Linked DNA regions of Homo sapiens. The protein of the gene in region 1 purifies or fractionates together with the protein of each later gene. This does not show direct contact. Each region holds a gene or a part of one and is shown on either strand. Other genes may lie near its edges.

What was found. Proteins that work in one complex are often made in the same cells at the same time.
Region 2: the proteins of ANGPTL2 (region 1) and GEMIN2 purify together in Homo sapiens (co-immunoprecipitation; one large-scale study listed by IntAct). This does not show direct contact.

What each region holds. Positions count from the first base shown.
Region 1 is NC_000009.12:127,091,636-127,095,135, forward strand, and holds part of ANGPTL2 (angiopoietin-related protein 2 precursor), read right to left. Parts: intron 2,292-3,500; coding exon 2,098-2,291; intron 306-2,097; coding exon 35-305; intron 1-34. UniProt on the Homo sapiens protein: Induces sprouting in endothelial cells through an autocrine and paracrine action.
Region 2 is NC_000014.9:39,120,823-39,124,322, reverse strand, and holds part of GEMIN2 (gem-associated protein 2), read right to left. Parts: intron 1,894-3,500; coding exon 1,780-1,893; intron 1-1,779. UniProt on the Homo sapiens protein: The SMN complex catalyzes the assembly of small nuclear ribonucleoproteins (snRNPs), the building blocks of the spliceosome, and thereby plays an important role in the splicing of cellular pre-mRNAs.

The DNA of each region.
Region 1 (3,500 bases):
ACCCTGCACCTGGGTTTGACTCCACTTTTCCTACCTGTGTAGACATCATGATCTCTGTCCAGGGTGGTGAACTGCTTGCCGTTGTGCCATGTAAAGGAGTCACCCGCATTGCCATGGTAGCGCCCCAGCCGCAGCTTATAATACTCGCTCTCAGGTTCCAGGCGGAAACTGGCGTATTCTGCAAAGACTTTGCGGCCGGACCAGTCCTCCATGGTCACCAGGAGTTTGTAGTTGCCTTGGTTCGTCAGCCAGTAAATGTTCTCCAGGCCCAGCCAGTATTCGCCGTCAATGTTCCCAAACCCTTGCTGGGGAAAACCCAGGAGAGTGTTAATGTGGAGCCTGCAGCACCTGCAGCCAGCAGGCTTGGCTGTCAGACACTCAGCCCTGGATAGAGGGGCCTGGGAAACAAGCAGAGCATGAAGCAGACCTGGTTCAGACCCCTACTCCACCTCTTAATCTCTCCATGACTCACACATTATTCAAAAATATGTAGAGTGCCTACCCTGTGCCAGGCATCATGTGAACCCCAGATTCCTTGTTCTTACATCAGGGAGGCTATATTACCTTCCCCACAGGCTTGCTGCAGGAACACGTGTGCTGTGGCAGGTGGAGGGCCTGGCACTAAGTAGGCACGCAGCAGGCATTCCTCAGACAAATCTCTGACCTTCACTGAGCTTCACCTCCTTCTCTGGAGATGAGCTGTGTGTGAGGGTCACGTGTAAGCTGTAACGCACCAGACGGGTGTGAGCTGTGACGCATGTGTCCCATCCACCGGCGCTCCCCTCTAGGTCTAAAACCCAGTGGTTTTGTGGTTATTGTTTTTTTTTGCATGTGGTTTTGGGGTCAGCAGCTGAGTTACGGCCACTAAAGTCTTGGGAATCGGTGATTCATTAATACAATAATTATTTAGTATTGAGCGCTTGTGATGTGCTGGCACTGTTTTAAGAACTTTACATAGGTTGTTTTACTAATCCTCATGTCAACTCGAAGAACTAAGTGCTATCATTATCCTCCCTAGTATGGATGAACTGAGGCCCAGAGAGGCTCAGGGTCTCAGAATGCCTGAGGGTGAACCAGGATTTGAACCAAGAACCCAGTCTTAATCATTGCACTGTATTGCCTCTAAGAAAGGAGGAGTCTCCCGCTCCTAATGTAGGTGGAAGAGGAGAAAAAAGCAGAGACACAGGCTGTTCAGGAGGTGGGGTGGGGGACAACCAGGACAGGAGACTCAAGAAGGGGCATGGCAGAGCCATGTGTGCAAGGCATCATGGCTTCAGGTAGTTTGTGAGCTTCAGTGTCAGAGGCCTCAGCTGCAGTCACTACTGGGCCAATTCCTGGCTTTGCAACCCTGAGCAAATTACTCCACACTTTCATCTGTAAGCTGGGTCCATAACAGAACCTCCCTCAGGAGGTTGATACGAGATTAAACAAAATAATGCACGAAAGCCCTTAGCATGGTGCTGGCACGGGTTGGGCACTCAGCAAACAGAGCCACTCTTGCCTTCCTTAGTACTACCTCTGTTTAGAGGGGGAAGAACGATGTATGACTGAGTCCTGGCAACTTTCCCTGCTACACAGATGAGCATTTCAACTCCCTGGGAACCAGGGAGCCCAGAGGATGAGCCTGGAATTAGGACTTGAGCATTGCCACAACTCCCTACCAGGACTTTTTGGGGGATTCTCCCAGGAACTGGGAGCCTCTTGGGACTTGCGCCTTCTGGGCTTTGAGAGCGGGTCTTTCCCCATGGAAACCCCACTTGGGAGTGAAATGCTCCTCACCCCTGGGCCCCCATACCAGCGTTTCTAAACTCTCACCCTGTCCTGTGGGGCTGTGGTGGTCTGGTCTACTGACTCTTGTCCTGCAGCAGTTTCTAGCAGCAGGCAGAGGAGGCGCTGGTCCTCACTACCCCTGGTGGGTTTGCAAAATGGCCCTGTCTGCATCCTTCTCGCCTCAGGTATATGTGTTGTTGGGGCCGCACAGGCCTGGGCTTGGTCAGCATGTACCTCTGAGTGGGCTCTTCTATTGGTTGCTCAGGCCTCTCTTGGGGTGGGCCAGTCACCTTGTGGGCAGCACAGACATCCCCTGCCGAGTCTCACCTTGTACGTCTCCCAGTTCCTGAAGAAGTTAACAGAGCCATCCAGGCGTCTCTGGATGACGGTCCAGCCCCCGGGGTCGTGTCTCTGGTCGCACCACACCTGCATGAGGCGGTTGGTGTTCTCCGGCTTCACCAGGTAGATGGAGCTGGTGTCGTGGCCATCCTCCAGGGCCTGCAGGCAGTCTCTCCATGGGCCTGGGGACACAGACATGCATATACATCACAGACCTGCCTGTCACCAGGCCGCACCCCCAGCTGCACCCCAAGCAGGCACAACCTCTGTTGAGGCTCCAGCTGGGAGCCACAGGCCCACGGTCTGAGGTAACCAATTTTTGTTTTGCGAGTTTAATAAGTAATTATAAAGACAAGAGCCTCGGACCAGGGGTCAGGATGCCCATACTCCAAGCTCACTTTCTCCTCTCACCCGCCTCACAGTTTGACTTTTGGCAGACTTCTTCATTCTCCCAGCCCCCAGTTTCTTCTGATTGTAGAAGGAAGATCAGATTTCCCTCATATAGTGTTGTCAGGATTACTGAGATCATTTGGGGGAAGTTGCTGGAGTGATCTTTTTCGTGTTCATTATATTAGGAAAAAGAGATGTGGACCTACTAAACGTGGCAACATCAGTCAGTGCCTGCAGGCTCTGATGGCTTTGCTTCTGCAAGGAAACTCAGTTCCACTGGATTACTGTTTCTGGGGGCCAAGTACAGTTGGCACCCTTCAATTCTGACTCCACGTCTGCCCTTCCAGTGACAGTGCTTCGTGATGACTGCTGCAGCTTTTACTAAATGAACTTCCACAGTCACAGGGGCCTAGGCCATGCCCAGAATTTGGCCATGTAGCCAGAGACTTTGGGATATTTCTGCAATTCATTCACTGCTCTTCAAGTGTGTTTTTAGGGGGCCAGGTTCCCTTTCAGCTGAATCTGTGTGTTTTCCAAAGGAAGCTCAGTGAGGGCCAGATGCTTGGCACTCACGCATTCTGAGGTCCTCCTTGCAGGCTCATAAACTTAAAGGATGATGTCCAGGATACAGCCCAATCCATGGCTCTCTTCTGAAACTGAGACCAGAGGGTTCTGTGATTCTTTGTGACTGCACTGAGCTTGGGCAGCCCAGTCAGAAGGAATGGGTGTTATACCACTGGTCTTTTAGCCCTCCCCACCCCTGCCCATCAACTCTGCCCTCCCCAGGCAGTTTCTTATGTTCCATTGTTGGTCACATCAGCAAGAAGGTACAAACTTGAGTCACCAAGGGTCTGGACAGGCTGGGGCCTTTCTCATTGATCTGAGGAAGCTTTAGAAGGTCAAGGCCTAGCCATTCAGATGAAAATGGCTGAAAGAAAGAAAATCACATTTTGCTTCAGTCTCTTCAAAATATTCCTCATAGGGCCGGGCACGGTGGCTCA
Region 2 (3,500 bases), on another chromosome or scaffold:
CTTCAGCTAAAGCTAATATTTTCAAGAATTAAGGACACTTGAATTAGAATGACATTTTTAAAACCTAATTTGATTCAATTTTTAAAAGTCTACTTTGGAGTCTGAGGCTGTGATTGCTAATTATGAAAATACCACTGATTTGTGAGAAACTTAAGAGGATATACATTAAACGCTTACTTCCTTAAGGGTTTTTTTTAACATGGTGTATTTTACTTGTATGTATTCTCTGAAAATAAGCTAAATAAGTAAGTTTTAATTCTTTATAAATTAAAAACCATTTTTGGCTAGCCATGATAGCTCATGCCTATAATCCCAGCAGGAGGATTGCCTGAGCCCAGGAGTTTCAGGCCAACCTTGCAACATGGTGAAAACTTCTCTCTACAAAAAAATTTTTTTAAAAAATTAAAAAACTTATCGCTACAAAAAATTTAAAAATTAGCTGGGTGTGGTGGTGGGTGCCTGCTGCCCCTGGTATGTTGAAGGCTGACGTGGGAGGATTGCTTGAGCCCAGGAGGTTGAAGCTGTAATGAGCTATGAGTGCACTACTGCACTCCAGCCTGGATGACGGAAGAAGACCCTGTCTCAAAAAAAAAAAAAAAAAAAAAAAAAAAAAATATATATATATATATATATATAGCTATTTTTGAAATGTAGCATATGTTAAGGATATCATCCAAAAGATCAATTGGTTATATAGAAAGAGTACCAAATTAACTTCCCTAAGATTTGAGTCTATTTATACTCCTGTACCACGTCTAAGAGTGCTTGTTTCCCCAGCTCTTGTCAATATGGTGTATCAAACTTTCTTGGCCAATATGTTACCTGAAAAATAGCACCTTGGCATAGTTATGTTATACTTCTATTACAAGTGATTTTTGGCATCTTGTCATATAAGAATAATTTTATTTCCTTTCTGTGAGGTATCTATATCCTTTGGCTATTTTTTCTTGGGCAGGGGAGGGGTGATTCTTGGTCTTTTTATTGATTCTTGGGGCTTTTTACATTTTTAGGAAAAATTAGTTTTAAATGTGAAAAACACAATGTGGCACCATATAGCAAATAATAAATACCTGTTGAACTGAAAAGAACTACATGCTATAGGGAGTAAGCGCTAATGCAGAGGCATGCACTGGATTCTCAAGGAACACCTGCAAACTTGGGGGCAGGTAAATCCTGAAGGACAAGGAGTTGTCTACATAACTTATGATTACAGCCACATGAATTTTAAAGATATCCTCAACATTTCATCTTTAGAATATGTGATTTATTTTTTACAGGCCCATGAAGTGATAGATGTGATTATGCATTTTAAAGCATCTAATTGTGTCGATTTCCATTTTTTCCCTGGCTACTCATAACACTGTTTGCCTGATGCCTCATCATTTAAAAAAACTATGAATCTTATCCAACTCATAAAATGATTACCAAGCCAAACATAAGGGATATGAAGCCAAACTAAAAAAAGTCACAGTAAATTGTTTCAGAAACTAAGCTGTTTTGTTAGGTTGAAGAGCTAATAAACTAAGTCTGGGTTGGCAAACATTTTCTATCAAGAGTCAGACAGCAAATATTTTAGGCTTTGCAGGCCACATAAAGTCTCAGCCACATATTATTTGTTTCTTTTTTACTCTTTCAAAACCTAAAAACAATCCTTAGCTCATGGATATAAAAAAGGCCATGAACTGGACTTGGCCCAGGGTAGAGTTTGCTGACCCCTTATATTAAGTGGTGCACCAAAATTAAAATGCTTTTTGTTCTGTTTATCCACACAGCCCTTACTTGTACATAATCTATTCCAGGACTTTCATTTGTGGCTGGTCCAACAGCCCCGTCAGCACATAACTTTTCACCCAGACAAAATTTCTTCCAGCCTTCTTCATCTTCAGATTTTGGCTAAAAGAAAAAAAAAAAAACTGATTTATTCCTGTGTATTAATTTTTACACTGAACAGTAAAAAAAAAGAAGTTAAGTCCTTCCATATTCCCATTACCGCAACCCAAAGATACGGAGCCAGTTATGGGGAGAATCTCTGCCCCCAAATTTGTATGTTAAAACCTTAAACTCCAGTACCTCAGAATGTGACTGTATTTGGAGACAGGGCCTTTAAAGAAGTGATTAATTTAAATTGAGGCCATTAGGGTGAGCCGTAATCCAATCTTACTAGTGTCCTTATAAGAGGAAATTTGGATTCACAAAGAGACACCAGGGACTCCCACACACAGAGGAAAGACCACGTGAGAAAACAGGGAGAAGGTGGCCCTATGCAAGCCAAGGAGAAAAGCCTCAGAAGAGACCAACCTTAGGCCGGGTGCGGTGGTTCACGCCTGTAATCCCAGCACTTTGGGAGGCCGAGGCAGGCGATCACATGAAGTCAGGAGTTCAAGACCAGCCTGGCCAACATGGCAAAACCCCACCTCTACTAAAAATACAAAAAAAAAAAAAATTAGCCGGATGTGGTGGTGCACACCTGTAATCCCAGCTACCCAGAGGCTGAGGCAGGAGAATCACTCGAGCCTGGGAGGCGGAGGCTGCAGTGAGCAGAGATTGCGTCATTGCACTCTAGCCTGGGCAACAAGAGCGAAACTCTGCCTCAAAAAACAAACAAACAAACAAAAAGAGACCAACCTTGCTGCCACCTTGTTCTTTGACTTTCAGCCTTCAAGACTGAGAAAATAAATACATTTCTGTTGTTTAATCCACCTAGTCTGTTATGGCAGCCCTGACAAACATAGTGCCTAAGTGGCTACACAATATGTGGGACATGTTGTTTTTCCTTATTATTACATTTTTTGAGACAGGGTCTTGCTCTGTCGCCCAAGTTGGAGTGCAGAGGTGTGATTACAGTTCATTGCAGCCTGAATCTCGGGCTCAAATAATTCTGCCACCTCAGCCTCTTGAGTAGCTGGGACTACAGGCATGTGCCACCATGCCTGATAATTTTTAAATTTTTTTTGTAGAGATAGTTGTCTCACTATGTTGCCCAGGCTGGTCTCAAACTCCTGGCCTCAAGCAATTCTTCTGCTTTGGCTTCCCAAAGTGCTGGGATTACAAGTGTGAGCCACTGTGCCCAGCCAAGATGTGTTTAGTTTGGACAAGACTTTAGTGGACACTGACAGACAATGGTGTGTCCAAAAGAGGATGATAAAGACAGAAATAAGTATGGGGGAAAAAATGCACCAAGAACACTTAATAGAATGAAGGATATTTATCCCATGTAAAGAGACATGATTACATATTTCACATATTTGAAGGGTTGTCCAGTCAAAGAAGAAACAGATCTACTCATGCTGCCAGACAGAAAAAGCAGGACGCAGGACTATTTGGGAGAAGCATTCAGCTCAATATAACCTCCTTAACAAAATAACCTTTGTTTGTACATATCACCTTGTATATTACTTTGCATAGGTGCATTTTCCCCCTAGGGATAAGTAGCTTTCATTAAATCCTTAGGATGAATCACCTGAGGTCAGGAGTTCGAGACTAGCCTGGAAATATGGTGA